Homo sapiens: one gene and its partners. The protein of the gene in region 2 interacts with the protein of the main gene of each other region in a pairwise test. Each region holds a gene or a part of one and is shown on either strand. Other genes may lie near its edges. The genes, in order: STPG4, FNDC3B, LARP4, DUSP10, CAPN3, NDUFAB1 and ADGRF5.

Region 1 (3,500 bases), on a different chromosome or scaffold from region 2:
TTAAGACCAAGAAAATTAGCCAGGTATGGTGGTGCGCATCTGTGGTCCCAGCTATTTGGGAGACTGAGGTGGGAGGATCACTTGAGCCTGGGATGTCGAGGCTTCAGTGAGCTGTGATCACGCCACTGCACTCCACCGTGGGCAACAGAGTGAGACTTTGTCCCTAAATAAATAAATAAAAATAAGATGTGATCAGGTCAGGTACAGTGGCTCACACCTGTAATCCCAGCACTTTGGGAGGCTGAGGCAGGAGGATTGCTTGAGCCCAGGAGTTCAAGACCAGCCCGGGCAACATAGTGAGATCCTGTCTCTACAAAAAATAAAAAAGTAGCTGGGTGCAGTGGCACACACCTGAAGTCTCAGCTACTTGGGATGTGGAGGTGGGAGGAGCACTTGAGCCCAAGAGTTTGAAGCTGCAGTGAATTATGTTCATGCCATATCATTCTCCAGCCTGGATAACAGAGAACCTATCTCAAAAAAAGAAAAAAAAATGTGGCTGGGCACGGTAGTTCATGCCTGTAATCCCAGTACTTTGGGAGGCTGAGGCAGGTGGATCACTTGAGGCCAGGAGTTCAAGACCAGCCTGGCCAACATGGTGAAACCCTGTCTCTACTAAAAATACAAAAATTAGCTGGGCGTGGTGGTGTGCACCTCTAATCCCAGCTACTCGGGAGGGTGAGGCAGAGAATTGCTTGAACTGGGGAGGCGGAGGCTGCAGCGAGCGGAAATCACGCCACTGCACTCCAGCCTGGGCGACAGAGCGAGACTCCATCTCAAAAAAATAAAAAGAAAAACTGTGATCAATTTGACATTTTCCTATGCAGCATCTCAGGTATGCTGTCTATAAAATTCACCATGAAGACCGAATCTATGTTAAATGTTTTGAAGCTCCACCTTTGGAAATGTACATTTTCCTTTTCCACTATTAAAGTAAAGAAGGAATTATCCAATGTTGTATGGTCATAAAATAAAAGATTACGAATGACAGATAACGAAGTGAGTTTACAACCTCTATTAATCTATTGGTGTCCTTGTCCATTCTGTGCAGTCACTTCAGCTTTCTCCGGGGCAATACAACGTGCTTCCTGCACCAGTTCCCAAATATGCTTCCAGGTAATTATATACTTATTAAATAAGCTGCCTTTCTGTTTACATACCTACACGCCAATACTCCTGGCTTTTAAACCTCATTTATGCACCTCATATGCAAATTAACATTTTAAAATATTTAATGAAAGGTAGGGAATAAGTTAACAAAGATCTTTAAAAAATAGATTTAGAAAATCACTTTTCTTTTTTATTTTGAAATATAGGAGCTGTGTATTTCGCTCAACAGTTCAAAGATTCCCAACAACCTATTTTATTCCCGTAAGTATAATGTAGACAGTTAACTCATGATGAATTTGATGTTTAAAATACGCTGTGCTTTCTGGAGTGGAGCAAGGTGGCCACATAGAACCCTCCAGTGATCGTTCCCCCTAGCAGGAACACCATTATCCACACAATTATCCACACAAGAAAACACCTCTGTAAGAACCAAAAAGCAAGTGTGGGATCGCAATACCAGGTTTTAACATTGTATCAAGGAAAGAGGCACTGAAGAGGGTAGGGTAGAAAAGACAGTCTTGAATTACTGACACTACCCTCCCCCATCCCCTGGCAGCAGCCACGTGGCATGAAGAGAGAATCTGCCCTTGGGGAAGAGGGAATGCCGTGACGGGGGGACTTTGCACGGGAACACCGTGCTGCCTGTAACAGGGAAAGCAACACAGGACAGAATTCAGCTAGTGCCCATGGAGGGAGCATTTAGACCAGCACTAGCCAGCCAGGAATTGCCCATCCCAGCCGTTCGATACTGAGTTCCAGCTCTCCCTACCACTGTGGGCTGAAGTGCTCTGAGGTCCTAAATAAGCTTGAAAGGCAGTCTCGGCCACAAGGACTGCAGTTCCTGGGCAAGTTCAGGTGCTCTGCTGGGCTCAGAGGCAGTGGACTTAGGGTACACAAGACCTAGTGAGACACCAGCTGGGGCAGCCAAAGGAGTGCTTGTAGCAGCCATCCCCCAGCCCCAGGCAGCACAGCTTGCAGCTTCAAGAGAGAGGCCTTCCTTTTGCTTGAGAGGAGGAGAGGGGAGAGTAAAGAGGACTTGTCTTGAATCTGGATACCAGCTCAGCCACAGCAGAATAGGGCACCTCAGGCAGAGTCCTGAGGCCCCCATACCAGGCCCTAGCTCCCAGACAACATTTCTAGACACATCTCTGGCTGGAAGAGAATCCACTGCCTTAAAGAGAAGGACCCAGTTCTGGCAAGATTCATCACCTACTGACTAAAGAGCCCTTGGGCTTCGAATAAACACCAGCAGTGGCCAGACAACACTCACTGCAGGCCTTAGCCAGTGCTGTGCTGCTTCAGGTGTGATCCAGCACTTTCCCAGCTACAGTGGTCACAGAGAGAGACTCCTGCTTGAGGAAAGGAGAGGGAGGAGTAAAGGGGATTTTGTCTTGCAGCTTGGGTACCAGTTCGGCCACAGTGAAGTGGAGCACCAAGCAGGCTCCTGGGGTTCCCAATTCCAGGCATTGGCTCCTGGATGTCATTTCTGGACTCCCACTGGGCCAGAGGGGAGCCCACTGCCCTGAAGGGAGAGACCCAGGCCTGGCAGCCTTCCTCACAAGCTGACTGAAGAGCCTTGAGTGAACATTAGTGGTATCCAGGCAGTACTTGCTACAGGCCTGAGTGGCATAGAGAGATTCTTTCTGCTTGAGGAGAGGGGAGGGACGAGTGGAAAAACTTTGTCTTCTGGCTTGGGTGCCAGCTTAGCTGCAGTAGTATAGAGTACCCAATAAATTCCTAAGTTTCCTGACTCCAGGCCCTGGCTCCCAGATGGTATTTCTGATCTGCACTTGGCCCAGGGGGCAGCATGCTGCCTTGAAGGGAAGAGCCTTTGGGCCTTGAGTGAACATGGGCAGTAGCTAGGCGGTAGTTACTGCAGCCCTTGGGTGAGACCCAGTACCATGCTGGCTCTGACCCAGTGCAGTCCCAGGGATATTGGCCATAGAGGTGCTTGTGTCACCCGTCCCTCAGCTTTAGGCATCTCAGCACAAAGAGAGACTTCGTTTGTTTGGGGGAAGGGAAGGGAAGAGAACCAGAGTCTCTGCCTGGTAATCCAGGGAACTCGCTCAGATCTTATCCAAGACTACCAAGGCATTACCTCTACAAGTCTACCAGAATCACAGCAATTACTAGGCTTGGGGTGCCCTCTAATGCAGACACAGCTACGGTGACCAAAGACAGATTACAGCACTTAATTCCCTTTGAATACTTGGAGAGCCTTCCCAAGAAGGACAGGTACAAACAAGACCAGCTGCAAAGACTACAATAAACACCTAACTCTACAATGCCCAGACATCGGCAAACATATACAGGTATCAAGACCATCTAGTAAAACACAACCTCACCAATCGAATTAAATAAAGCACGAGTGATCAATCCCAGAGTGACACAGA
Region 2 (3,500 bases):
CATTCACAATCACATTCTCACAGACACAGTCCCTTTTTCTACCTGAATGAGATGCAGTAAGGAATCCATAAATTCAATGAGTGTTATAATCAATGAGTGTTATAATCAGATTCCTTACTGCATCTCAGTCAGGTAGAAACTGGGACTGTGTCTGTGAGAATGTGATTGTGAATGAAAAAGGGAATCTACTTGAAATAATTGATCTTATGTTTAAAAGTTGTTCAAGTCTTTGTTTTCCAGTCATTTATATCTATAAACTCACCTACCTTATCCAAATGCTACCTTTTTTGCCTCACTTAAGTCATTCTTCCCTATGCCTATAGAAATAGCCACTGTTTTTCCTTATGTGGCATCAAAATAGGTTCTCTCTAAACTACCTCCAAAACTTCATTTAAACACATAAACCTTCCTCCAAATGAACTGATCTACCCAAGAGATTCATCTACAAAAAGACAGATGCCATTCTGAGTTGATGTTTCTCTACCTATATGTGGTGGCCCTCATTCTTCCATCTTATTCTTAGTTTCTGAACACTTAATTCACAGGCAAAAGGTGGTATGAGACAATAACTGATGCCAAAACTAAACAGAAACATATTTCTGTGATTCAATGATAGATTTCATTACAGAAAGGAAGTAATTACGTATGGTTTATGAGGTATAATTATTTTGAGATTTAAACTAGCCTACACTTTTAGAAAAATTATCTTTGGATTTCTTCCACATCTGTCTATTCAGAGAGTGAAACAACAGAAGTAGGCTAACATGAAAAGATTTTCAAATATTTGTTATTAAGTGCAAAGTTGCATGGCATCTGTGACCAAAATGTAGTATTTCTGCCATGAAGTATTAATAAAAAATAAACAATGCAATATTATTTCCTTACCAAGAAATAGATCAAAGAAGGTCTACTCAAATATTCTTAGCAGAACAACCAACCACCATGAAATAATATTCTCATGTAAAAGATGTGGAAACATCATTTGAGATGTCTCTGTCTTGATAATTCACTCTATGGCAAACATCTTGAGTATTACCTTGCAAGTCTGAATCATTCGACTTTGGGCTGCTTCTTGCTCGTCGCTCTGTTTTCTTAATTCCGGGACCACTACCGCTGCCGCCTCCGCCACTTCCACCACTATGGCCCTTCCCATAGCCATTGTATACTGTTGTGCAGCTGCTTTTGTAGATAGAAGAAGGAGGGCTGTTGAGGCGGTTCTGGCGATCGATCTGGCGGTCTTTCAGTTTTTTGTGCGGAGGCTTGCTGTACTGGTCTTCTCGGGTGATGTAGGTTGACATTCCATAAAATGGTATAATTTCTAAAATGGATGATTATGATAAACCCAAACTCAGTTTACATTTTCAATAATAAATTATTAAATGGTCAAATGATCTGGCTCCTGAAGAAGTCTAAAGTATAAAGGAAGTCTAAAGTATTACTAAATAGAGTCTAATAAATATTTTTTAAGAAAATACTGCTGGGCACAGTGGCTCACGCTTTGGGAGGCCGAGGTGGGCGGACTGTCTGAGCTTGGGAGTTCGAAACTAGCCTGGGCAACATGGTGAAACCCCATCCCTACTAAAAATACAAAAAATTAGCCAGGCGTGGTGGTAGGCGCCTATAATCCCAGCTATCCAGGAGGCTGAGGCAGGAGAATCGCTTGAACCCTGGAGGCGGAGGTTGCAGTGAACTGAGATTGCATCACTGCACTCCAGCCTGAGCGACAGAGCAAGACTCTGTCTCAAAAAGAAAAAGAAAAAAGAAAATGCCATATACATGATATACATTTAAAGCATTCCCATTTGTTTCTAACCAATCAAGGAATAATCAATCATTAAAAACTACACTGTGTGTTCAGAAAAATTCCTATATTACAGAGAATACTGAAGACAAGGTTGTTATCCCTAAAGAGCTCATATTCTAGTTGCATTTATAACTGAGTTTGATTTTTACCTTTCAATATGTTTTCAGTAGTTGCAATACATGAAAAAGTCAGAACAAATAAAATACCCCTATTAAACATGTACTTAGAATCAAGCTACTTTAAAAGTCTACTCATCCCTGTAGACAGAATAGTATTTCTACTGGGAAGTATATTGCAGTCAAAGTTTTCTGTGGCATACAAAAGAGCCAACATTTGAACAAATTTAACTAAGATAATGAGATGACATATTTCCATTTAAAATAATCAAAGCTCACAGAATCAGGGGAAATGTTCAAGGAGGAAGTATAAGGATAAAGAAAAGCCATCTCTGAAATCTGGTGCCAAACATAATAAGCTGTGGTCTCAAACTTCTCTTTTGGAGTAATAGAAGGCAAGACAAATGTAGAATGTCACCTGACTTTACTATGCACATTTTAAAGTGGCTCAAAAGAAAATAGAAGCCTGCAAGCAATCTTATGATCTCAAGGGGAAAACTTTATGTTAAATTTAAATTTTTAAATCAGTTCAAAATTATTTTTAGGTATCAGTAAAAATGACAATGCGTAACATAAAGATTGGGTCCTTACATCTTTATAAGAAAAAAGGGTCACCTCTTCTATGGAGTGACAATATAAATTACCATCCAAATCTGAACACTTCTGAGAGCGAAAAGGAAGGAATATCAATAATTTCTTCAAGGCAAGAGACCTACACTAGGACTGTCACAGGCACAACAGAAATGTATGGTTACCCTGCATAATTTAACAAAACTGCTGTCTCAATTACTCAACAGTAAAGCTCCACTGTTTCTTACTGTTAACATAGCTAAAGCATAAACAAGAGTTGTTTTGTTAAAAAACAAATCTTCATGAGAGAACCAGTTTGCACTAGAGAACGTGTCAAAACAAATATAATCCTATTCAGAGAGTGTGTATCCAAAGAAACTATGTCAAAATATACCAGAAGGATAGTAAATGTTCTAAACACCACGATGTATTACACATGAGATTTAACATATTCACTATGGGCAGTAATAATCTTTTCAGACATGTTGAAAACTTTTAAAACTCTTATAGTTTAGAAAATTAATATTTAAATTGCTTTTAGGTATGCACACTAAGAACTAAGGTAAAAGAATATATCAATGGCTTATTTATAAAGGGAAGGGATTTTGTTTTACTGCTTTAATTTGAAATCAATGAAGGCATTTTTATTTGCATACATTATTGCTCTGTGTTATTTTAATGGAATTAGACCCAAATACACCATAAAATGAAGAGACTACAATTTTGCTTAACTCTAATGACGATTTAAATCATACTGTTGTCTTGCCTAAAATTGCAAAGGACAGCATTTACAAAACAGTAACCATGTGGCATCCTACTAACAGACTGCTAAAATAAGGCAAGTCAGACATATACCAGCAAGCAATGAGTCAGTCACCAAGGCCTTTCATGTCATCAGAGCTCAGATACAGCCAGAAAGCTCTAAGAAACACTCAATTATTTAATGCATGTTGAGTCAAAGCACTGAATACATTAAAAAAATTACAGCTAACTAAATTTTTTCAGTTTTT
Region 3 (3,310 bases), on a different chromosome or scaffold from region 2:
TTTCTTCAACCATCTTTCTCATCTTTACTAAAAAATCTCATGACTTGCTGGTACTGTTTCAGTGAATTCCAAACTGTATTTTGTTGGGTGTGGGGGGAGAAGAGGAGGGAAGGAAGGTAATACACTGTAAACAGAAATAAGTCCCCCCTCCCAAATTAAGCCTTTAAAAAAAATTTTTTTACTTCTACATTATTTAACACTTAAGAGTCAGTTACTATGCTTAATCTTTAACACTAACGACAAATAAATTACTGTACGGTCAGTCTGCCCTACCATCTTGGGAGCTAAAATTCTAAATGTGTGAACAGAAGAGTTAATACTTCAATGTTCAATTCTGAAATTTAGAACAATTTATATGATTTGACTAGACTGCTCAAAGCAATTACAAACACACAATTGAGTAGGTAGTTGGTTATTTTGCTTTTCTGTGGGTGGGCAGTCAAAGAACAGAGAGTAACAAATGGAGTAAGAAAAAAAATTTTGTTTCTCATTTTGGGGGTATTCGGGGGAATCACAGGGAAGTTTAAACCTCTGAAATCCATTTGACCTATGCACTGAGGTCCAAGATGAAATTTTCAATTTCTTGAATAACCCCCTTTCCTTGAGTATCAAACTGATTGGTAGTCACATCTCTAAGTACAATCAGAGTTTTACAACTTGTTAAATGAAATATTAGTAAGGTCAAAAAGACAGACTAAATTTCAAACTAGAAAAAAAAATCTACTCAAGTATTACATTCAGTTTTCAAATCATTTACTAACATGACAACAGATTTGGCTTCAATCGCTCTTGTACACACTCACACCCACAACAGGCACCCCAGCCACTGATCCGCTTTGCAATACAAGGCCATATAGTCAGAGATGGCATTCTTCAAGCCAAACTTTAAATAGATTAAAAAAAGTAATTTCTAATTTTACAGAAATGCTTCTTCAAAAAATATTTTCTCTCATTCCCTCATCTCCTATACTGAAGGATGTATGTTTCTTTTTTTTCTTCCAAGCTAAATCTGAACCCTCAAAATTGATTCCTGGCAGCAAATCTCTGCAAATTAAAACCAAAAACAAAAATAGAAAAATTATACTTTTTATATATGTGTGTGTATATATATATATATATTTATATTGATTGGAATCCTCCAGCATTTAAAAACCACATTAGAGATGAATTTTGGGATCCTATCACTCACAACTCCAAAATCCATAATGAAATGGACGTACTTTCTCTTGTTTCCTTCCTGGCTACCCCCTCCCCTCCAAAACAGTTCAATATAGCCACAGTTCAAGTTTAATGGGAAGAGAGTGAAGTTTTTGAATAGTTTTGTTGTTTTTTACTTTGGTGATCTGGGTGGCACATATTGCTCTTTGCCATTACGTCGAGTCACTCCCTGAGGTATAGCCCTATGGCTAAACTGGCGTCTCTGTTCCCTGATTTTTCCTGCTGCTCCCCTGGGGATTATATTGCCTCGGAAGCCAGAATAATCCTTACTAGCCCTTGCTTCTGGCTTCTCATGTGGTTTCTCAACGGAGTTCTCAGGAGCTCCATTGTCTTCATTTTTGGTGGGAGACACCACATTGGAGCGAAGTTCCCGTAGTGGCTGCACAAGAACTGAAGATGGCTCTTTAGGGGGCTTCTGGCACACTTCAGCATAACTTAACTTTCGGGGTTCCTTTGAAGTGATGATAAAAAAAAACATTTATGGTACACATTCTTTAAATTATAAAGTATAAAAATGATTGTGTTAACCATAAGAAAACCACAGATTATCTTCCAGAAAAGGGCAACAAGCACTCTCATATATACTGCTTAGAGTACACTGGTACAATCTTTATTTATTATACAATAATTTCACGTAAGGAATTTAACTGAAGGATGTTCATGTCAGCGTTGTTTATAATGATGGGAGCGACCTAAATGCCTAACAAAGGACAGATTAGATGAATAATGGTATAGCCATATGATGAAATAAAATGGTTCTTTCTGCTCCTGTTTCCTTGCTACAAAGAACCCCAAGAAAGATGACAAAAGAATCCCAGCAGAGCAGTTAGAATCCAATGGTATAAAAAGACTCATTAAAAGTCTTAATTACCTCAACTGAAAAAGGTGGAATAGAGGTATTGTGAGAACAGAATAAAACATGTAAAGTCTTCAGCACTAGTCCTAATAATATATAGTAAGCATTCAAATGGTAGCTATTATTTTAGTATTATTACTATCATTGAATGAGAAGATAGTCTTCTAAATCTATTTTTAAAAGTGCTGTACTAAAATGCTAGGGATTATAGGTAAATTTTGTGTTTTGTTCTGCTTTTCTGTATTTTCCCAATTATATAACTATAAAACAATTCTGGAACTTGATAAATGGGAGTGGCCTCTCAATGGCCACTTATAGACTTGTTAAGTATCACATATACAACCAAAAGAATATCAAGAGGCACAAGGCCTCTTTATGTTAGCCCCAAAATGATAAATTCATCCTAACGTGGGTAAGGAAGAAGCTTCACTTAACCATATGAACAGAAAAAAAGCAATCAAAAGAAACAGAATGGGCCAGGCGCGGTGGCTCACGCATGTAATCCCAGCACTTTGGGAGGCCGAGGCGGGTGGATCACGAGGTCAGGAGATTGAGACCATCCTGGCTAACACAGTGAAACCCCGTCTCTACTAAAAATACAAAAAATTAGCCAGGCATAGTGGTGGGCACCTGTAGTCCCAGCTACCCGGGAGGCTGAGGCAGGAGAATGGCGTGAACCCGGGAGGCGGAGCTTGCAGTGACGCGAGATCGTGCCACTGCACTCCAGCCTGGGCGACAGAGTGAAGACTCAGTCTCCAAAACAAAACAAAAAAAAGCCTAAAACTTTCCATCTCTTTGCAGTGACCCTAACACTCCTTAAGCTTCTTTCTGATAGTCAGCCCCAACTTGGGCTACTTCCAAATGACTCTGTTCTAACAAAGTGTTACGTGAAAAAAAAAAAAAAATCTAATCTATTGTATTTTTTTTAACATAAACTAAAATCTTCAAGTTACCTGTAGAGCCACAGCTGTAGCTGCATTTATGTTATTATTACATGGTGAAGCAGTACTTGCCCTCGATGGCTTTGTAGTACTTGGAGGAGAAACTGGTATAGTTGTCTGATTGAGACCATCCTTCTGAACAGAGGAATCTTCTATTAGATCCTTTTCTTGCTGAGTTGTGCTAAGGAAAAAAGAGCTTGCAATTAGACTCAGAATAGCATATAGGAACAGTTGAGCAACTAATCAGAAGAAAACGTAATTTTTTTTTTTGAGACGGAGTCTCACTCTGTCACCC
Region 4 (3,500 bases), on a different chromosome or scaffold from region 2:
TAAATAAACTGGTATAAACACTAAACTTAGATGCTGCTCAGCTTATATTACACTCTCAGTGAAAGCTATTATGTTTATAAAACCTGCTGTGTTTTTACTAAAGCAAGACTGTAAGATTTCAGTTTATCCAATAATATAACAATGAAAATAAAATTGTGCCTATGCAGGTTGTGATATGGAGTTGTTCTTCGGGCTGAATGCTATTTGTTATTGGTTTTGTTTTCCTTAAAAAAAAAAAAAAAAAGGCAGGTAAGCCTGAATAATCTATAAGGAATGTGAGAAGGAGCTTTAGTTGAAATCCTCTTAGAACAAGTATATCTTACCCTACTCATTAAATAGAAAACAATTTCCTAACTTCCTCCAACTGGAGTTAAGTCAGATGGAATCTCAGTCATAACATCACATCATGTATCAACCAGAAGTTCCTCATATGCTTGTTGAGAAATTTTTCTTCCTCAGCGCTCCAGGTTTGGCTCAGATTTTATTAATAAAGAATCTGCAGTATCTCTGCATCCTCAGTGTTGCCAGTTGGGAATTACTTAATAGGGCATCATAAACATTGCCTTAGTGTGTTGTGAAAAGGCCTCAGGCTTGGGAGTCAAAAACCCTGGATTCTGGCCCCTTCTTGGACACTAGAATTCCTATGACCTTGAAGAAGTCACTTTACTTCTCTAAGTTCAGTGATCACCCTGAATTTCCTTTCAGACTCAATATTCCATGGTCCTGTGCTGACGGCATAATTAGCAAGGAAAACAGCTTGGCAAAATGACCAGAGATGTCAACACTACAGCAAATCCACCAGACCCCACTGGCTGTTAAACCTGAGGCTGTTTTTTTCTTTCTCTGACAAAGGAACACCCCACTCCACTTAACTGTATTCTTCCTGGAATAACAACCTGCTGTAATATTTAGGAAAAGTACTAGGCCACCCCTTTATGGTAATAAAAGTTGAAGTTACGTAAAAAAAAATAAATGTTGAGTTTTGCTATATTGCAGGTGCTCCCAAAATGATATTTTGAGTGTTTTTTTTTTTTTTTGAGACAGAGTTTCACTGTTGTTGCCCAGGCTGGAGTGCAGTGGCGTGATCTCAGCTCACTGCAACCTCCGCTTCCCAGGCTCAAGCGATTCTCCTGCCTCAGCCTCCTGAGTAGCTGGGATTACAGGCATGCACCACCACGCCTGGCTAATTTTGTATTTTTTTAGTAGAGATGGAGTTTCTCCATGTTGGTCAGGCTGGTCTCAAACTCCTGACCTCAGGTGATCCACCCGCCTCGGCCTCCCAATGTGCTGGGATTACAGGCATGAGCCACCGCGCCCGGCGATATTTTGAGTCTTATAGCAGTTTGGGGCTATAGAAGTTGCAGAAATTAAGATTAGGATTAGGCTAATAGTTGCTTCCTTCTGGGGATCAAAGCGTGCTGTTGCTAAAACTTCCTCCTTGGGAACTACTCCGTCTACACAACCTGATCTTTCCTAGTTCAATGAGTTTGGGGCAGACTGTCAAAGGAAACCTAGTACCATCTCCCCTTATGCTGGATGAATAAGGCTTAGTAGGGTGACCGGAAGGCATAGGTATGTTTGGAAGGGGTGTCATATTCACTAGATATTGCTTCCAAGGTGCTCAACGGCGCTAGTAGATCAAGTAGCAGTAGCACCAGCTCTGACCTCCGATTCCTTACTTTCCATCCACTTTTCTGGTTACAGAGCACATAAATGCTAACCCCTACCACTATTTCACTGAGAACTTGAGGGATGAGGATTTCTAGTTGAACAGATCCCAACAAATTCAATTACTGTCCTTTTATATCCATCCTGATGGCTTGGATACACTCGACAGGCTATGACTTAGGAGAATGCTTAGGCTGTTTCAGGTGGCAGAGCCCTCCAAAACTCCAGGGCAGCTTTTCTTTTCCAACACAGGAATAAACCTTGAACTTGATATCAAAGCAAGAGCTGGAGGGAAAAGGAAGGCAGCGGATGAAAATTCCCTATGGGAGATAGTTACCAATGAACTCAAAAGCCTCTTCAAAGTACTGCCGCAGGTTCTGCTTGTTGCTGTCAGTGGCTGGCAGCCGCTTGTAGTTGAACAGGCCTTTCTCATAGTGGTAGAGGGGAAGATGAGTGGTGACGTTGATGACGTAGCCGATGTTCAGCCGCTGCATGGTGTCCAGGTCCTGAGCATCCTGCTCATTGCCAAGGAACAGGAAGGGCAAGATGGGGGTGAGCTCAGCGTTCTCGATGTCAGGGGTGGTGGGGATGGGCTGAGGTAGCAAGCTCGAGGCCGCGGATGCGCCGCCCCCCACCTCCCGGCACTCTTGGAGCTGGAGGGAGTTGTCACAGAGGTTTTCATGGTTCTGCTTAAAACTACTAAGTCCACCTAGAACACAAACACAGAAGGTGAGTGTGACTGAGATTTCAGAGCTGGCAGAGAATGCCACCTCCCCATTAGAATGAGTTTGCATTGTAGCTCATGCATATTTTAAATACATATATAAATATGTATTTAAGCAAAAAAAATAAAAATAAAAATAAAACAAAACAAAACAAAAACTAAAAGTCCATTTGGAGACCCAAGACAAGCTTCGGGGAGTATCACTGCATGGAACACTTTGGAAATGTGCTCTTTCTACAAATGAGGGCATGTTCCCCTAGCAAGAGTTCCACGCGGCATCAGGCAATCTTCCTCAGCTGCAAATGTGACCTGCCTCAAAGAGCCATATGCTCAGTGGCCTACATAGAACCCTGTGCTTTGGGAGCCAAGAAAGGCACAGATGACCTCCTCGGGTGGAATCTCAGCACCACAGGAGCATGTCTTGCACCCTTCATAGCTCACCTCACCCAGAGGGACAAGTTTGCTCCCAATACAGCAGAGTGGTTACAAGCAGGAACATTGGAAGAGACAGGTTATCTTGATTATAATCTGGGTACCATCATTTCCTGACACTATTACTTAAGTTCATTTATCTCTGTGCTTCAGTTCCACCATCTGTAAACTGAGGGTGATGGTGTCTCCCTTTGAGTGCAATTGTGAGCCTGAGATAAATGAATACGTGTAAAATACTTAGCACATCTCCTGGCACACAGTAGAACTCAGCAGGCATTCACTATTTTAATTTATATTATTTATATGATTGCCCACAGGTGAAATCAGCAGAGAAGTACTTGGAAAAGACAAGCCAGGGTGGGGTGTGAAGGACTGCTCTTATAATCTTTTTTGATATTCTCCACGTAGGGCCCTGACATTTATCAACCCTGACTTTCAGTAGAACAGAATGTGAGAGCAGCGCGGTTGCTTACTCCTCGACTTTCCAAGGCTTGTGGGCACATAAACCCATCAAGAAACCTCTTTTGGATGTGTGAATGCATGCTTTTGAGCTTACGGCTCTGCTCTGCCTCCCACGAGTTATGGGTCTAGTATAAAAAGCTTATAAACTGTGCTTATTTCTCCATTTTTAAAATGCAAACCTTCCCCTGAACAAGTGCAATCTCACTTTTGGGAA
Region 5 (3,500 bases), on a different chromosome or scaffold from region 2:
GGAAAATAAGGTTCATGATGAATTATAGCTTGGGAAACTTATCTAAACTCTATTCTTAAAATAAGCCTAATTCAAGAGATTTCTGTGTACCAGAATACAAGGAATAAAGTCATCTATTCAGAGGACTAAGAGGCTGCTGCCGTCTGTCTGGGAAAGAGGTGTCCACAGGTCCAGGTGTTGGTGGAGGGCACTAGCTGGCCCCAGGAGTGAAGAAGAGCAGGGCTAAGGGTGAGGTTGGACTACTGGGCAAAGCACAGATGGATATGGGTATGATAGTAATACCTGGCAGGAAGAAAGGCAAACACCAGAGAAATGTGGCTGAAGTAGAGACCCAGCTCTGAGCTGGGAACGGGTGGGGCCCTGTAATGACAGAGAGGTGGGGACAGGAGTTGAGGGAAAGAGGTGAGGGGAAAAGGTGAGGGGAAAAGACCCATAGCTGGAGCTCCAGCCACCATCAGCAAGTGAGAAGGCACTGGATCTGGAGTTAAGTGGGAAGGTGGCAAGCTCCCCCAACTCCCAACAGCAAATAGAGGAGAGAGCTAAGCAGAAGGTTGCGATGAGAAACTGCAAGGCCCAGCTATCAGCCCAAGGAGCTTGGAGGACAGTGGAGGAAGGGAGAACGGATTTCCTAGGGAAGGAGCTGGAGGTTAAGCTGGAGGTGGCTGTATATCAATGATGCAGTTTTGACTCCGATTCAGGGCTGTGAACTGGAGGCCCAACCAGAAATAACCTCTCCTAGCAGAGCCAAGAAACACTGAGACCATGCTGATGGAGGGAAGTTTAACCTGAAGTCTGGGTTAATCCAGCTGCTAAATACGGTGGGCCCTTCCTTCTCCAAGCTCTAGGTTAGGGTGGGTCTGGAATAACATGGAATTTACAGAAAGGTGACTCCACCTAGCACCAGAGACAGGAGGAGCCCAGGAACCTCATTGTTGTCAGGGTCCACTGCTGGAAGCCCTGGCCAGCTGAGCTGATGGTGCAGGGCAGGGCCCTGTGGAGCAATTCTGGGATCCCATGTTACCAAGGGTGAGGAGAGGACCAGATACCTTTTCATCACAAGGTCCTGCAACTGGCCCTTCACTTCTCATCCCTCCAAAAGAAGCAGGGATCTAGGTTGCCCCTGCTTTGGGAATTGCAGGAGATGAGAGAGAAGAAGCTTAAGAACTCTCCACCTGGCATGACTGAGGCACATGCAGATGGGAAAAACGAAGCCCTTGCTCAGCAAGTTGGTCTCAGTGAGCCTTTAAAGCCAATCACTGGGCAAGGTGCCAAGTTTCCCAGCCAAGTGTGATCCCTCTTTTGTAGTCTCCTTCCTGGCTCTATGATACACTCAGATTTTCACAACCAAATGTACATTTTATATTTGATGTAGATAACTAGAATTGCCCTAAAGGACAAGCAGTCCCCTGCCCATGAGGGGAGCATTCACACACACATCCTCATGCTGAGATGGATGGATGCATTTAGACCAGGCATGAAGTACTCAAACACATTGCTGTAGCTAATATCTTGACTGGTCATAGGCACAAATTAAGCTGGAAAAATGTTTATGATGTTGCCACTTTTAAGAGACTGCATAGCTGCTTGTAGGCAGTAATAAGAGTAGTCTATGTTTACTGAGCACTCAACCATGTGCTGGTCTTAAGCCTTTAGCCTGCATTAACTCATTTAATCCTCAATTAATTAAGAGATGGGTTCTTCAATTATGGTTTTTCTCCATTTTTCACATGGAGAACCTGTGGCAAAATGAGGGTAAGTATGTGACCAAGATTACCTAAGTGTTAGGTAGCAGGCCCAGACTTGAACTTAGGTTATCTGACCTCAGAGCCTGGGCTCTTAGCCACTGTGCCATTCCATCTCCAACTTATAGAGGCTGATGCTTTCAGGGGCAACCCCTGGGGTGTCACTCAATGCCTGTTGTGTCTTGAGGAGGCCCAATAAATGACACCTTACTTCCATGCATGAGTTTTGAGCCAATAAAGGAATACTACAAAAGTGCAGGGCAGGTGGGAGTCCAAAATCCCACATTTATTGTTTAATAAAAATGGATATTGACATCTAAATCTCAGAATTAGATAGATTTGGGGCTCTAGAGCCAGATTGTGTGGGTTTAAATCCCAGCTCCAACCCTCACTAACTGGGAGATCTGGCGCGAGTTATTTAATCCCTCTGAGACTCAGTTCCCTCCTTTGTAAAGTGGGACAATAATGGTACTTCCTCACAGGATTGTTGTGAAGATTAAATGAATTAACATATGGAAAGCATTTAGTTACTGGCATGTGGTGAGTTCTCACTCAAGATTAGCGATTATCTTTACTGTTAACCACACATTACCAGGTGGCCCAGGGACTCCTGCATGACTCCCCATGGGGACTTGCCTCCAGAAAACTTACTGCAAGGAGGGCAGAGAGCAGAAGCCATGCTTCTTGCAGGCAGCTTGCTTCCCAGAGAAAGACAGAAGCCAAGAACTGGGCTTTACAGGTCAAGTTCTCTTTACAAACCCACCATGGGAAGGAGACAGGCCAGGAGTGTGGTGCAATTGAACCTTCCACCCCATGGAATGAAACACGACCTGCCCTCCCATCCCCAACCTATCCCTAGTATATTGGGCACCAGCATCCCAGAAGCCCTGTTCTAGAACCCATTCTATTCTGCCCTGGGATCTGTCATCAAGAAAACTTGCCTTAACAGTTGAGAAGTGTTGAATAATTTGTTTGCTTTCTGATCCTAGAAATAGATCATATAAGGAAAGTCTAGAGGAACCAGATTGTTTGCCCTGGAAACTCAATGCATGATGTTCCCGAGTAGAGGAAGAAAGTCTGTGAGGTAGCACTGGTGAGTAAGAGAAGAGATTACAGGTGAGCTGGGAACAGTCGGCCAGAGCCTGTTTTCTTTTAAGAGGGAAAGGCTGAAAGTGCAGCATGCTATTTTAACTAGAATTATAGTTGGCCAGGAATAATTCTCCCTTTATCATTATTATCATTATCACTGTAATTATAATAAATAATACTTGATGGTCGAAAAAAAATTCAGATTGGTTTCCAAAGGTTCTGTGCCTTAGACAGTAAAAGCAGGAAGGCCTTTACTCACCTGTGTGGTGCTTCTCCTGATAGGACACAGTCTTTTCAGACTGCATAGGGCTGGCAAAGGTCACTACATCTGAAGAAGTTTATGGAGAACTGATGTCTCCAAGAAGTGCTTTACAGTCAGAAAGTTCTGGAGTCATTTCAGTTTTTCAGTTCCAAGTCAACTTGTGTGGCTGTAGATAAGTCATTTGCCCTTTCTGGGCCTTAATCACCTATAAAGCAAGGACACTGGAGCACCTCTCCAAGAATCATTCCAACTCTGACCATCTCTAATTTTATATTTCTCATTTATGCTAGTGAACCCAATGGGCAGTGTTCCTGTGATCTTAACCCCAGGGGAACATGTGGGCATTTTATCCAAGAGTGGCCTTTGTTATCTGGTCCTTTAGTGACTCAAACAGTGGAAAATCCAGG
Region 6 (2,902 bases), on a different chromosome or scaffold from region 2:
AGGCGCTCCTCACTTCCCAGACTGGGCAGCCGGGCAGAGGCGCTCCCCACATCTCAGACGATGGGTGGCCGGGCAGAGACGCTCCTCACTTCCTAGACAGGATGGCGGCCGGGAAGGGGCGCTCCTCACTTCCCAGACTGGGCAGCCGGGCAGAGGGGCTCCTCACATCCCAGACGATGGGCGGCCAGGCAGAGGCTGCAATCTCGGCACTTTGGGAGGCCAAGGCAGGCAGCTGGGAGGTGGAGGTTGTAGCTAGCCGAGATCACGCCACTGCACTCCAGCCTGGGCAACATTGTGCACTGAGTGAACGAGACTCCATCTGCAATCCCGGCACCTCGGGAGGCCGAGGCTGGCAGATCACTCGCGGTTAGGAGCTGGAGACCAGCCCAGCCAACACAGCGAAACCCTGTCTCCACCAAAAAAATACGAAAACCAGTCAGGCGTGGCGGCGCGTGCCTGCAATCGCAGGCACTGGGCAGGCCGAGGCAGGAGAATCAGGCAGGGAGGTTGCAGTGAGCAGAGATGGCGGCAGTACAGTCCAGCTTCGGCTCGGCATCAGAGGGAGACCATGGAAAGAGAGGGAGAGGGAGAGGGAGAGGGAGACCGTGGGAAGAGGGAGAGGGAGAGGGAGACCTTGGGGAGAGGGAGAGGGAGAGGGAGACCGTGGGAAGAGGGAGAGGGAGAGGGAGACCGTGGGGAGAGGGAGAGGGAGCTGGGTTTCTTTTACACAATGGTGATGGTTGCACAATGTGAATATACTAAAAACTACCAAATTATATGGTATATACAAGGAGGAATTTTCTATTATGTGAATTCTATCTCAACAAACAAACAAACAAACAAACAAACATACCTCCAAAGCATCGTACCCAACCTGTATGCATACTGTCTAGAAGCTAACTGGCCCACAACCTATATGGGATTCAAGGTTGCTGAAAGTTTTGATATACTTGTAGCTGTTGTAGAAGGGTCAGGTGTGTTCAGTTCTAAAGGATTTTTTTTTTTTAACTCTCTCACATTGTTGTATATTTTTCTTTTAGGGTTTGAAATTCCTGATATAGATGCTGAAAAGTTAATGTGTCCACAAGAAATTGTAGATTACATTGCAGATAAGAAGGATGTATATGAATAAAGTATCAGGTAAATAGACTTAAAAAATGATGTTCACCCATAGATTTGTCTGTGGTTCTTCAATAAAGGAAACTTAAGAAGAAACAGAAAATGGAAATGCTTGACCAAGATTTTTCACTACTTATAAAATGCAAGCCCTTTCCTGTTGTCTGCCACTCAAAGGGGCCCAGCCCTGGTGGTGATCTTTGAGAGGTTGAGAACTGTCATTCCTGGATAGAACTCCCTTGATTGTCAGCTGTCCTCACAAAAGCAGAACATTGTACAAAGTACTGAACAGGGTAACCTGGAAACAGACCTCTGTCTCCCTCAATTACTCAGCCAAGGTAAGCCCAGCCTGCTGGGTAAGACACTGAAGTGACCTGGCTCTTAAGTAGGCAAGAGAGGCCTCATGTATAAGAGGATGGACTTTGGAGTCAGAGACACCCAAGTTTATTCTCAGCTTTGCCACACACTATAAGCCTGGTGGTCTCAGGCAGGCTGCTTAGCTCTGTAAGCCTCAGTTTCCTCATATGTAATATGGTGGTAATGATAGGACCTACCTGGGGCTTTTGTGAAAGCAAAATTGAAGAGAGTATATATATCACTTGATATAATGATGTAAAGAAGCCTCTCAGTAAATAGTAGCTTTTGTTACTTGGGACCTAGAATAATCAAATAAGACTTTTTGAATTAAAACATTGTATTAGTGTTTTTAGTCTTTAGCTTTTAGTGACCCTGCATTTTTTTTTTTTTTTTTTTAAAGATGGAACCTTGCTCTGTTGCCCAGGCTGGAGTGTAGTGGCACAATCTCGGCTCACTGCAACCTCCGCCTCCTGGGTTCAAGCAATTCTCCGGCCTCAGCCTCCTGAGTAACTGGGATTACAGGCGTGCACCTCCACGCCCAGCTAATTTTTATATTTTTAGTAGAGATGGGGTTTCACCATGTTGGCCAGGCTGGTCTCGAACTCCTGACCTCAGGTGATCCGCCCAGCTTGGCCTCCCAAAGTGCTGAGATTACGGGCATGAGCCACTGCACTCAGCCAGAGGCTGCATTTTTAGCACCTGAAAGATGTCACTTATCATTAGTAAGAATACATCAAAAATAACATTGAACTTATTTTGTCTTTTCCAGACCCTTTGGCTTTGCTGAGAGAGGACTCAGATGATAGTGACGAATGTCTGGCAGTGAGGACACATTTTGGCATTCTTGCTGACTCTGACAGAGTGATTCTGATGGACTTGTATTTAAATTGTATGTGTTTTACTCTTTGAAAATAAATCTATAAAACCAACATTTTCCCCCATCTTCAGTTTTTCAATGATGTCTATAAAGTGCTTTTTTATGTTTGTATACTGACATTGCTTAATATTTTTAAAGGTCTGATTTGTCATTTGTATTCATGCATGTCAAAAACAATGGCTTCCCCAGCCATGTACTTGAAGTAAGGCTGTCTCCCCACCTTCGTATCAGGAGTGAATATATTCATGGAAATGGACTTTTTGCTTCAAAAAAAACTTTGTTTTGGTTTCCATTAGCTTATTATCAGATGTGTCAGCTGATATCAGCAGGTGGGACTAGTTTTTCATCACTGTCCTAAAGATCCCTTTTAATACAGTTTAACAGTTTTGGAGAATGGGAGGCTCTCTTTCCTCCTGGAAGGTCAGTTTGACATTGCCACACATCAAACCACAGTTTGATTTGTCACACATCATTATTGGTTCTGCCCCTTTTACTCTTAGCACTGTGTTGGTTCCTTGGGGTTGATGTAAATAACATGTATGCATTGCTTAG
Region 7 (3,500 bases), on a different chromosome or scaffold from region 2:
CTTCTCCTCCCACTGGGAGCCTACACATTTGTAAGTGATGGTCCCGCCAATGGGACTCTCAGGGCTGCTGGGAACGTTTGAGAACCGGCATAGCTTCTGGATGACTTTCCCCGGCTCTCCGACACCTATTACGGGATCCTGGCATGTGATGTTTTCCCCTGTGTTGGAAACATTGAAATAAAGGGATAATTGCAAGGAAGAGACAATATAGTAGAAATACGGTCAGGCCAAGGTAGAATTTTGATGTTTGAATTCACATTTACCTTTACTTTCCGTCACCTTTTCAGAACTACCCAATTTCTTAATTTTGCCCTTGATTTTCCAAAGCCCCTCTCTGCTTTCCACATGAACCTGACTTCTGTAATCGGAACTTCCTTTTCCTAACAGAATTTTATACCTTCATCTGGAGATTCTCAACTGTGACATATTAGAATCATCTGGGAAGCTTTTGAAAACACCAGTGTCTGGGCTAAGTAAATCGGAATCGTCAGAGCGGGATTTAGGCATCAGCAGGTTTTTAAGCCTCCCTGGTGATTCCAGTGTGCTGTCAAGGTTGAGAATCACTGCCATAATCCAAAGACATAATTGCTAGTAGGAACTCTAGGTACCCATGACCTGAATATTCTAATCAATATGTTTAAGCATTTGTTCCTTCTGGTTTCCCTTAGAGGTGATTCTATTTCACCTCTTCTCATGACCAGGCAAGGATGGGGAAATGACACTTGCTGTGGAATCTCTCATGTCCAGTGGACCCTGACTCTGATGAGACCCCTCCCTCACCAACACTTTTCTTTAACATTAAGATCTTAACCACTGTATATAAATCTTAAATAAGTAATGTTCTACTAGGAAAAAGAAGCGAAACCATATTTGGTATAAAGAAAGAGGAGAAGAACAAAGATAAGTGAATAAAATGTGTTGGCTAAGATGAGTGATGGGGAAAAGAAGAGGTGACCTTTGCTGCACCCTGGAGGGGTTGTACTTGTGCGTGGAAAGGTCAGGTGAAAGTGACTCTAAATTGTTTCCTGTTTTGGTGCCCAGGGGCTAGTTGCCAACATGTGAGAATGACCACAAACTATTCAGTAAACTCAAACAATCTTGGTGATAACGATCCTTTGTCTATCACAAGTCCTGTTGCTGGGAAGATTTAAGAGGATGAGGAGTTGCTTATGGTAGAAGCCCAGGGTCATCATTTACCCCTTGTCTTAACATAAGATTCTCCCTTAAGATGACCTTGTATTAGGATGATCTATCCTTCCCTGCTGCTGAGGGGAGCTCCCCAACATGGGCTAGCATAGCAATGACTCTGTAAAACATGAACTTTCACCTCAAAGATATTATGTGATGGCAAATTGACTCAGTGGTGGCAAAGGATGGGAAAGGCAGCTGCCTATTCTCGAGATTAATTGTTTTCATGTAGCCTTGTCTCAGAAAAACAGTGCAGTGTGGACACCTTTCATTTGCTGAAACCCCAAAGGACCTCAACCACATTGATACTGTCCACTTCTAATCACCTGGTAAACTCCTTTAGCAGAGCTAAGCCACCCACAACATTTCTATTTAGCTCTTACTGTATTACATGTAATAATTTTTTTTTTTTTTTTTTGAGACGGAATCTCTCTGTCGCCCAGCCTGGAGTGCAGTGGCACGATCTTGGCTCACTGCAACCTCCGCCTCCTGGGTTCAAGCGATTCTTCCGCCTCAGCCTCCCGAGCAGCTGGGACCGCAGGTGCATGCTCCCATGCCTGGCTAATTTTTTGTAGTTTTAGTAGAGACGAGGTTTCACCGTGTTAGCCAGGATGGTCTTGATCTCCTGACCTCGTGATCTGCCCACCTCGGCCTCCCAAAGTGCTGGGATTATAGGCGTGAGCCACCGCACCCGGCCAATAACATTTTTTTATCACATAGATTTCTTCCCTAGGCTTGAGGCCAGGGGACATGGCTTATTTCTTTTCTTTTAAATACCACTATGGTGAGCCCAGGGCCTACCACAGTGAGGGTATTTAACATATGTTTATTGAATGGGGATGAATGAGGGAGTGAATAAATAAATAAGTCCCTGCCCTGACTATAACATCTTAAAGTAATTTAAAACGTTCTTACCAGGAACCAGATTCAGCTTCATAGATGGGCTCCAGACTGAATTATTAGCAGCATTGGTAAAGTGACAACACACATCAACAGTTTTTGAACACCAGGAAACTGAGCTTGCATTGAAATTGTGTTTGTAGCACACTTGTTTTTTGTTAACTTCTTTTGCTGAAGACAGAATTATTGAAAGAATTAAGTCACAACATGAGTCTCTAATGCACAAATTGTGTTAAGATAACCTAATATGAATAAACCTGTCCAAGCTTTCCCGAGGAATGTGCCACATTCATTTTTAACAGGTTTTACCTCTGGGTTTTGAAGTATGTAAGCCCACATTTGCATGTGTGCTAGTCAAAACTTCTCCTCTACCATTCATGACTCCAAGTCACACATTTTTGACATTCAGAATGCCTTTTCAGCATTCCACAAATCCTTCTCCCTATCTAAATTTCATCATGCTCTGAGCATTTATCCTATTCTGCCTTTACCATATTGGTATATAGTCACCTATTCATGAGTTTGTCTTCTCTACTAGACCATACGCTCCTGGAGAGAAAGTACCTTGTCTTATTTATCTTTCCATCTCCTGGTGCTCAGCTCAGTATCTGGTGCATAGAAAGCACTGAATGTATGCATATTAAACACAGAATGTTGAAATGCTGCATATGTCAAAATCCAGATTGATTATATCCCTCTGCCATGCAGCCTTCTTTAAAGACTACAGTGTTTATTGAGTCCCCACTTTTCTGAACTTCTACTGTTTTTTTAGTCTGTATTATTCTATTTGGATATTTTATATTATATGCATTGCCTTTCAGGGCATGGGCCCTTCTAGATATTAAAATATGTGCCCCACTTCTTTTTTCTCCCTTTCATTGCCTACTATGGTGTCTTGCGTTGAGTAAGCCCTCCAGAATAGTTATTGAAAAAATGAATGAGCTTGTAAATCCCTCATGAAGTTGTCTGTGTTTTGAGATTTTTGGGTTGTGAGATCATGCTGGTTGACCTTAATCTCTGGGAATCCCTAGGGATCTGGATTAAGGGCACCATCTACCAGAGAGACTTTGATTTTTTTTTCTTTTTTTGCTGGTTGACATAGGGTGCTACCAATGGACAACTTTAAACTTAGGTTGGCACTCCTGAACCACAAAGGAAATATAAATTCAAAGCCCAAACCTGAGTGATGGCAGGACAACTATATTTTTTGGGGGAAACCTTTTGTCCACCCAGAGATGAGGCCAAGGTCTCAACTCTGGCAGATGAATTTTGTTTTCCTAGCTTAGTCTCTTACTGAATGTGCCACTTTTTGAAGGTCTTAACATTGTGTCAATGGGGTGTGAGTGACCCATTGTGTGTTTAGGGAGCACAGTCTTTACTTTTATGCCCTCTGGAGCCTTAAAACCCAAGGT

Evidence for each region.
Region 1: the proteins of FNDC3B (region 2) and STPG4 interact in binary tests that used the Homo sapiens proteins (3 or more experiments, as listed by UniProt).
Region 3: the proteins of FNDC3B (region 2) and LARP4 interact in a two-hybrid assay, tested with the Homo sapiens proteins (one large-scale study listed by BioGRID).
Region 4: the proteins of FNDC3B (region 2) and DUSP10 interact in binary tests that used the Homo sapiens proteins (3 or more experiments, as listed by UniProt).
Region 5: the proteins of FNDC3B (region 2) and CAPN3 interact in a two-hybrid assay, tested with the Homo sapiens proteins (one large-scale study listed by BioGRID and IntAct).
Region 6: the proteins of FNDC3B (region 2) and NDUFAB1 interact in binary tests that used the Homo sapiens proteins (3 or more experiments, as listed by UniProt).
Region 7: the proteins of FNDC3B (region 2) and ADGRF5 interact in binary tests that used the Homo sapiens proteins (3 or more experiments, as listed by UniProt).

Annotation. Positions count from the first base shown.
Region 1 is NC_000002.12:47,127,809-47,131,308, reverse strand, and holds part of STPG4 (protein STPG4), read left to right. Parts: intron 1-1,048; coding exon 1,049-1,113; intron 1,114-1,313; coding exon 1,314-1,368; coding exon of another isoform or gene 1,369-1,383; exon of another isoform or gene 1,384-2,861; intron 2,862-3,500. UniProt on the Homo sapiens protein: Maternal factor that plays a role in epigenetic chromatin reprogramming during early development of the zygote.
Region 2 is NC_000003.12:172,249,078-172,252,577, reverse strand, and holds part of FNDC3B (fibronectin type III domain-containing protein 3B), read right to left. Parts: intron 1,319-3,500; coding exon 1,037-1,318; intron 1-1,036. UniProt on the Homo sapiens protein: May be a positive regulator of adipogenesis.
Region 3 is NC_000012.12:50,473,885-50,477,194, reverse strand, and holds part of LARP4 (la-related protein 4), read right to left. Parts: intron 3,197-3,310; coding exon 3,028-3,196; intron 1,670-3,027; coding exon 1,331-1,669; 3' UTR 1-1,330. UniProt on the Homo sapiens protein: RNA binding protein that binds to the poly-A tract of mRNA molecules. Associates with the 40S ribosomal subunit and with polysomes. Plays a role in the regulation of mRNA translation.
Region 4 is NC_000001.11:221,704,090-221,707,589, forward strand, and holds part of DUSP10 (dual specificity protein phosphatase 10), read right to left. Parts: intron 2,378-3,500; coding exon 2,006-2,377; intron 1-2,005. UniProt on the Homo sapiens protein: Protein phosphatase involved in the inactivation of MAP kinases. Has a specificity for the MAPK11/MAPK12/MAPK13/MAPK14 subfamily. It preferably dephosphorylates p38.
Region 5 is NC_000015.10:42,362,501-42,366,000, reverse strand, and holds part of CAPN3 (calpain-3), read right to left. Parts: intron 1-3,500. UniProt on the Homo sapiens protein: Calcium-regulated non-lysosomal thiol-protease. Proteolytically cleaves CTBP1 at 'His-409'. Mediates, with UTP25, the proteasome-independent degradation of p53/TP53.
Region 6 is NC_000016.10:23,580,514-23,583,415, reverse strand, and holds the end of NDUFAB1 (acyl carrier protein, mitochondrial precursor), read left to right. Parts: intron 1-1,040; coding exon 1,041-1,132; 3' UTR 1,133-1,140; intron 1,141-2,242; 3' UTR 2,243-2,402; downstream 2,403-2,902. UniProt on the Homo sapiens protein: Carrier of the growing fatty acid chain in fatty acid biosynthesis.
Region 7 is NC_000006.12:46,862,939-46,866,438, forward strand, and holds part of ADGRF5 (adhesion G protein-coupled receptor F5 precursor), read right to left. Parts: intron 2,260-3,500; coding exon 2,104-2,259; intron 159-2,103; coding exon 1-158. UniProt on the Homo sapiens protein: Adhesion G protein-coupled receptor. In alveolar type II (ATII or AT2) cells, required for normal lung surfactant homeostasis.